Homo sapiens: one gene and its partner. The protein of the gene in region 2 purifies or fractionates together with the protein of the main gene of each other region. This does not show direct contact. Each region holds a gene or a part of one and is shown on either strand. Other genes may lie near its edges.

The links.
Region 1: the proteins of HSD11B1 (region 2) and ACSL4 purify together in Homo sapiens (affinity purification with mass spectrometry; one large-scale study listed by BioGRID and IntAct). This does not show direct contact.

The regions. Positions count from the first base shown.
Region 1 is NC_000023.11:109,674,255-109,678,074, reverse strand, and holds part of ACSL4 (long-chain-fatty-acid--CoA ligase 4), read left to right. Parts: coding exon 1-87; intron 88-3,601; coding exon 3,602-3,673; intron 3,674-3,820. UniProt on the Homo sapiens protein: Catalyzes the conversion of long-chain fatty acids to their active form acyl-CoA for both synthesis of cellular lipids, and degradation via beta-oxidation. Preferentially activates arachidonate and eicosapentaenoate as substrates.
Region 2 is NC_000001.11:209,703,190-209,707,659, reverse strand, and holds the start of HSD11B1 (11-beta-hydroxysteroid dehydrogenase 1), read right to left. Parts: upstream 2,815-4,470; 5' UTR 2,718-2,814; coding exon 2,630-2,717; intron 1,850-2,629; coding exon 1,719-1,849; intron 952-1,718; coding exon 840-951; intron 718-839; coding exon 532-717; intron 1-531. UniProt on the Homo sapiens protein: Controls the reversible conversion of biologically active glucocorticoids such as cortisone to cortisol, and 11-dehydrocorticosterone to corticosterone in the presence of NADP(H).

The DNA of each region.
Region 1 (3,820 bases), on a different chromosome or scaffold from region 2:
CATGTGCTAGAACTGACAGCAGAGATATCTTGCTTTACCTATGGCTGCAGGATTGGATATTCTTCTCCGCTTACACTCTCTGACCAGGTGACAAACTTTTCAGTATATTGGCATGATCGTATGATGCTGCATGGTTTGGCTGAGAACATATTACTAGGACTCGAGATATTTTAATTCAGCTAAAGCTTTCTCCTTGACCTCAAAATAGCTTCCATGAACAATATGTAGCTATAGGAGATTACCCTGTAGATTTGTTAGCATTGCTTTAGCTATATATTTTAAAATTATTTTTTTTTTCTTTTCTTTTGCTCTGTCACCCAGACTGGAGTGCAATGGTATGATCTTGGCTCACTGCAACCTTTGCCTCTCGGGTTCAAGCGATTCTCCTGCCTCAGCCTCTAGAGTAGCTGGGATTGCAGGCGCCCGCCACCATGCCCTGCTATTTTTTTTGTATTTTTAGTAGAGATGGGGTTTCGCCATGTTGGCCAGGCTAGTCTCGAACTCCTGACCTCCAGTGATCTGTCCGCCTCGGCCTCCCAAAGTGCTGGGATTACAGATGTGAGCCACTGTGCCCAGCCTTAAAATTATTTAAAAATGAATAATTACTTTTATCTTTTTCTACTAGATTTTTACTCTTGAGAACTACGATAGAGAATATAAATGCAATGAGCCTTTTTGACACACTACCCATGAGCATTGGTGGGTTTCTGGGAGGAGATATGTTAGGGTCTTGGCCCAGTTTTCCCGAGATTTTTCTAGAGCAGTACCGTCTGATACAGTAGCCACTAGGCAGATATTTAAATAAAAATTAAGGGCCGGGCGCGGTGGCTCATGCCTGTAATCCCAGCACTTTGGGAGGCCGAGGCGGGTGGATCACAAGGTCAGGAGATTGAGACCATCCTGGCTAACATGGTGAAACCCCGTCTCTACTAAAAAAATACAAAAGAATTAGCTGGGCGAGGTGGTGGGCGCCTGTAGTCCCAGCTACTCGGGAGGCTGAGGCAGGAGAATGGCGTGAACCTGGGAGGTGGAGCTTGCAGTGAGCCAAGATCGCGCCACTGCACTCCAGCCTGGGCGACAGAGCGAGACTCCGTCTCAAAAAAAAAAAAATTAAGTAAAATTGAAAAAAATTTTTTTATTTGCTTTAGCCACATTTCAAGCTCTCAATAGCTACGTGTGACCAACGGCTACCATATTAGGCAGCAAAGATAAAGAATATTTTTATCATCACAGAAAGTTCTATTGGTAGGGGCTGAGGCATCTCCAAAGGTAGTCTCAGCTCACCATACTAAGTTAGGATTCTTCCTTCTCTCTGTAGTTCATAGCAGAAATCCCAACAATGGGTGGGGCTAACTCATATATGTTATACCCATTTGAAATTACACACCTAATACTATTGTCCACAGTTCTGTTTTATGTCTTCTTTGGAATAGTTGCTGTAGAAAAGCTTCAACCAGGCTTAGGGGAAAAAAAAAAAGAGCCACTAAAGAAGCTGTGGGGTTCTGGATGCTGAAAGACAAAGCAAGTATAGGTAGGAATGACTTGTCTATACGTGGCTCTGCTCCTCCAACACTGGGGGCCCAGCTGTTGTTTTTCAGACCGCCCCCCACCAGGCAATGCTGCCTTTTGTTTGAGAGTCTCCATGGAGCATGTAGTTGGTAAGATACGTCCTCAGTGTTCACAGTTAGAAATTGTAATACTTTATTTGTAGAAATACCATTTTAGGGAGAGGCTAGATAGGTTGTATACTATTAAAACAAAAAAAGTTAAATAGTTTTTTTTGGACTTGAGATTCCAATCACCTTTGTGTTTTTTTTTTTTTTGATATATGACTTAAAGTGCACAAATATTAAGTGTACTGCTTGATGAGATTTAATAAGCATATACACATATAGACCTCTGTGATCATCACCGTCTAGATTAGGAAAACAAAGAACATTTTCAGCACCCGTGAATGTCCCTTGGGTCCCCTCCTGGTCATTACCACATTGGATTCTCTTTGAAGGAAGAATCCAGCCTTCTTTTAAAGTGGCTTTTTCTGTGAGAACGCATTCTGTTCCAAACAACTCCTAGCTTTGTACTTTAAGAAACACAATCTTTGTATGACAGGGTGCTGCTGTGTTTGACTATACCACTCAGCTATAAATTCACACTTAAAATCTGCTAGAATAGTAATGGTATGAATAAATACACTATCCGATTGATAGCAGAACTTGACCTGGTGAAATCAAAGTAGACCTATCAATAAGACTAAGGCTTAAACTCTAAAACAAATTTAGTAAAATCTCTGATCATTATGTTTTGTTGTCATGGGTTTTTCTTATGCTCAGAGACATTATCAAAATGTAGAAAACATTTCAGTAAACTTTGAGTATAATTTTTTTTTCCCTTTGTGAATTTGGAAGCCAGGACTAGCCGTTCTTTGATTTTTCACTGCCTTTCTGAGAACAATAGCCTCAGTGTGGGAAAGGAGGGACAGTTGGAGTCTGTTGCTGGTCTGACTTAATTCTTGCTGTCTCTTAGGCTAAGCTAGTACATTAGAAGCCTGTTCAGTAAAATTCACACCTACTTTTTAAATGAACTTTACTGTAAAGACTCTCAATCTTACTAGGAATCTAAAACACTGGAACTTGCTTCACATAGGAAATCAGAAGGATGCAGGAGACTAGAAGCACCACATTTGGAGCCAACTGATGATAGCAATATTGTCATAACCAGGATTACTATGATCACAAGAAGACAAAATAACTGATAAAATTACTAAGAGTAAAAAAAACAAAGAAGGGCTTCTTGTGGCTTCTGCTATCCTGGAACTGCTCTCTGTAGCAAGAGCTGGTCAGTAGCATGCAGAGGGCAACTCCGACCTGAAGGACATGAGAGCCCATTTTGTTTCTGCAGAGCAGCCCTCCTGTGTGTGGTGTACATGGTTTCTGTGTAGGTTTCCACTTGCAAATGTGCACATCCTTGCACATATGTAAAATGAGTTATTTTATCTCCTTTATCCATATTAAAGAAAAGTAGGAGAAAGGCAACTTAGTTCTATCGGGAGAACCATCCTCTATATGGCCATTTGTGCACATTTATGTGTATCTCTACTTTGTCCCTGGCAGTGTTCTCAGTATCTTACCAACTAGAATATTACCAAATTAGAGTTTCAGTATGATGTTAATTGATGTTCATAGTGGTGTCTTCAGGATGTGGCTTTGCCTATTGTTAATCAAAGAAAGTTAAAATCACCTTCAATTTTGTTTTAGTGTTATATCTGTCTTAATCAAGTTTTTTTGAAAATGTAGTAATAGTCTGTGCTATATTTGATAGTATGTTATTAATAAGAATGTTTGATTCATCACAATGTCATTCTCTTGTTATCCTGGATCAAGGTTTCTCCTCTAAGGAAGGTGAAATGTGCTAGAAGCAGTTATCTGTAGCACTAAAATACTTACATTTGAGACTTGTAGGTTATGATAGTTGTTAACAGATAATCACAGAGCAATAAAAGCTCAAATTCCAAGTGTAACTTCTGTATTTGTTATTAATACTTGAATTACAACATGTTTTAAGGTTGGTTTTCCTGATCATATTTATTTTTTCTTTAATATAGTCCAGCAAAATTAAAAAAGGAAGCAAAGGAGACTGTACTGTACTGAAGCCCACACTTATGGCTGCTGTTCCGGTGAGTACAGAATATGAATATGAACATAAGAGGATTGTTTATATAATTTATTGATCGTACTTGGACCTTTTAAAAAGTAATACTCTTAGATATGTCTACATTTTAAAATAATTTTACCTTGTTGAAATCACAGCAAATGTGTTCATT
Region 2 (4,470 bases):
GCTTTTTCTCTGCTACTTAAAAGAATTTTGTAGCCCATCTACCTTGACCAATCCTTCATTTTTTATGGTGTCACTAGTTTGTAACAGTGTCTCCTTTACTCAGGATGCGTGCCTCTCATTGAGTCCACAAATCACCCCCCTACAAGTCTCTTATCAGTACATCTGCCCATTCATGCATATGAGTAAGCTGTTAATCAGCTTTTGTTTAATATTACTATGAACATTTCAACTTCAAGTTAATATTGTAACTAGGTCTCTCCCTTAGGACCAGGACAGGCTGTACCTCCAGCAGCCCCTCAAGTCCCTTTGACCTTACTTTGTAGAAAACAATTCAGTCTTCCAATGAGCACTCAGAGCTACTGCTTTTTCTCTGTTACTTAAAAGAATTTTGTAGCCCACTTACCTTGACCAATCCCTCATTACTTCTCTGCATGGAAACTGATAAAAATTTATGTCTACTTCAGAGCCTGGCATCATCCCTGGCATTTTTTTTTTTCTTCTACCTTCCACATATGTCCCTGTCCCACTTACCAGCCAGAGAGGAGACGACAACAATGCTTCCATTGCTCTGCTTCAGCATGGGCAAGGCAGCTACAGTCAGGACCACGTAACTGAGGAAGTTGACTTCCATGCTTTTGCGCACATGGTGAATATCATCATGAAAAAGATTCAAAGAAGTGTTGGTGATGTGGTTGAGAATGAGCATGTCTAGTCCTCCTGCAAGAGATGGCTATATTAAGAAATCATCTGGGGTTGATACCTTTCCCATTCTCCTCCCAAAAGCTCTTGGTGACCCCAAGGGCAAAGTTCAGAGGAGGAGGTAAGAGAAACAGCCTCACCCATGAGCTTTCCTGCTTGGGCAACAAATTGCTCTGCGAAGGTCATGTCTTCCATGGTGCCAGCAATGTAGTGTGCTGAGGCTGCTCCAAGCTCCAGGCAGTGGGATACCACCTGCAGTGATACAGCAGAAATGGCATCAGTCTTAGCTGCAGATTTTTGGGGGGTAGTCTCTGAAGTAACGGGGGGCTTAAATGAGAGATTGCTCACAGCCCTGTTTAGGTAAGAAATGGTAAGTATGTTTGTGTGTGTGTTGCCTAATATAACCCTCATGATCATCGTCCTCTGTCTGAAATATTTTCTGGAACTTGGTGGGGTTCAAATGGATAAATCATCCCAGTGCTGGGGTTTAAGTTCATGATTTATGCTCATGGCTTCTGTGAATAGGCATTTCTGAGGGCATTATGAGTGTAGATGCTGGTTACTATGTGGGTAGCTCTAGGTTTGTGAATGTTTGTACATCCTTGGGTTTGTGAGTCCATGAGAGGGCATGTGTCTGGGAGTCTGCATGGGTATGAGGATATGTATTCATAAGCAGGTACTGGGATTTCAGTTTTTGAAAACATCCGTATGTATCTGTAGTTCCATGTGTAAATGTGTGTGACTAGGCATGTCTGTGAGCATATATAACTCAAGGACTCTGTTGCAGAATATATTACACACACACACATGAATGAATGCTTAAATGCATACTTTTATATTCCTGTGGGTTTTTTGGTGTTTGAATCTATATATGAGAGTGCAAAATTAAGTGTCTGTGTGTGTGCATGTGCCTCTGTATATAGATCTGCGATATGCTAGCTTCTGTGTATATGTGAGCATATATAAGAACACATCTGAGCATGTGACGGTACACATATCTGCGAGCATAGAACCCTCACCTTCTGTAGAGTTTCTTTTGACCTCGCTGTCACCACCACATGGGCTCCCATCTTCGCCAGATGATAAGCCATCTCTCTTCCGATCCCTTTGCTGGCCCCTGTGACAATCACTTTCTTTCCTTGGAGCATCTCTGGGGAACCCCAAAAGGAAGTGAGGACCATACCCAAGTTGGCAGCAAAATTCCTTCTCCCTCTCTGGATATAGGCATGCTTATCGCAATTTGTAACTTAAAGGTTATGAGCCCAGATCAGTTTGTCACAAACTCCGTAAATCACTGTGGGAACAGGCCAGGTCTTTCATAAACATGCTCTGAAGTGGGAGGTTTGGGCTGACAGCCTCCCTACTGTCATTTCTAAAAACCTCCATGGAAAGAGATCATAGGATGAAGCCAGAAAAGTCATGGTTCAGCTAAAATGCTGGAGTTCCAGACATTTCTGGACTCTTTCAATTTTGCTCAATTGAAAGTACATTTAACAAGGAATCAAAACACATGTGTTCATAGAAATTCCAGGGATTTTCCCTCACTTCTATGTAGTCATCATCTCCAGTTTTTTTTTTTTTTTTTTTTGCCTCCCACTTATCAGTCTCTTCATAGAGCCCAATTAGCTGCTGAGTTGTGAATTTGGGTATTACTCTCATTTTTGTAGAAGATTTGAAACTGCTTTCCATTAAGGGTGCCAAATAAAGCATGGCCTATTTGGCTAGATTTTGGCTACACGATTACCCTTCCTACACAGTCCCCCCTGTCCACAGCCTGTAGCTGGAGGACACAAAAATACCATCTTAACTCAGGGTTCCCTCATTTTCACCAACTTTGAGGATCAAGAACACATCTTGGTCCTCAGGAACACTCAAGCACCCCTGTGTTTTTTAAACCTATTCCTCCAAAATGAGACGCATGGGTACTTACCTGGTCTGAATTCCTCGTTTGCAGAATAGTAGTAGTAGGCCATGAAGAGCCCCAGAATGGGGAGGAGATATTTTTTCATAAAAGCCATCCGACAGGGAGCTGGCCTGAAGACTCCTGTAGGACACACAGAGAGAACCTACAGAGCTTTCTACAACCTCCTAAGCAGGCAGCAGCCTCTGAATTGTGACATCAGGGACGGGGGAGGCTGGAGTAGTCTCAGGCAGTGCTAGCCAATTTCCCTGTCAGAGCAGCGATTGGCTTTGGGTGGGATCCCATTCGTCCCTGGCAGCCTGTGTGGTGGATTTCATAATGGACAATGTTTACTCCATTTCATTGAGCAAGAGGAGACTTCCAGATGGCCAAGCTCATGACTGTACAGGACTGGATTCCTGAGCATCCCTACCCGAGTCCATCTTACTCTTAACACCATTTACGCCAGGGATCAATGATCTTTCAAAAGTAATTTGTCAAAGACAGAGAGAGAGGAGTGCATGTAGGGCTTCTGGGGGGAAATGTGAGTAATAGCAAAGAGAGCCAAACTCAAGCCAAATCTCACTCTCAGTCCCCCTACCCCCCCACCCAGTGGGAAGCAATTAAAAATAACAGCACAAAACAGCAAAATAAGCTTAAGAAAAAAAATGTGCACATTTTGGGAAAAAATAATGAAAGCAAAGAAGCTCTATAAGCCCCACACTCAAGTTCAATGAAAAAGTATTACAACATCAAAGGAGAAATTGCAAGCCAGCCAGAACCCAGATGGCGGGAAATCCAAGACTGGTTCAAGACTCTAAGGCAAGTGCAATGGATCATACACTTATTATTTTAACAGAGAACAAAGAAGAAATAATGAGTGACAAAAAAGGCACTAAACTATTAAACTGGGTCTTGTAAATGCTGTAGAGCAACAAGAAACATGGAGAAGATGCTAGGAAGAGGCGACCTGATGTAGAAGAAAAAAGAACTAGCATTAGGCAAGTGAAACTAGCTGGGGACGCCCACACCAGCTAAAAATAGATCTAGTAACAGTAAAAGGACGAGGGTGGTAAGAAACCCTTAGCAATTTAGAATTTATTATCAGGGAAATATAAAAATAACCACCTCAGTATGTCCGTAGCACGAATTCATTAAGGAATAATCCTCAAAGAAAGAATTTAAGATGTATCATTGTTAAGTTTTTCAACTCAAAACCAACCAATCAACTCATGGAAATTACCCCATCACAATGCAGTCCTGCATTCTGTAAGTTATCAGTAGAGCGGGGAAAAAATTTAAATGTGATAATAAGTATCAGTGCTTTGGAGGAGGGATAGGAGTTGGGAGTAGTGGGGGGACAGAATTTACACAAGGTTAAGGGAAATTAAGTTATGATTCCAAGTGCAGTATCTGGAAACATTCATCAAATTTTCACTTTAGAGTAAGAGAAAATAATTTAAGACCCAGAGGAGATGAAACAATTTGTCAACAAAGGCCCACAGCTGTGAGGGTCACTTGTAGAAAACAATGGAGATTTGAGAACAGTTGAGGGCTAGACAGAGCTCGAGGTCTATGAAGGACAAAAAGAGAAAAAAGATAAAATTCAAGTAAAAATTAGATTACATGCCTTTAGAACTGCAAGCTACATTTGTATAATTTTATAAATATATTTATGATACCAGGATATATTACAGACTACACTCCATTTTCATCCCTAGAGGGAAGGCAGTGCCAGCCAGAACCCAGATAAGGTTTATTTTCTTAATCCTATACTATTAATAGTAAAATTATAGGAAACAATGAAAAGTTATTTGGAAATATGATGATGTTGAAATGATAGAAAGATGGGCAGACTAGGGATGTTTATT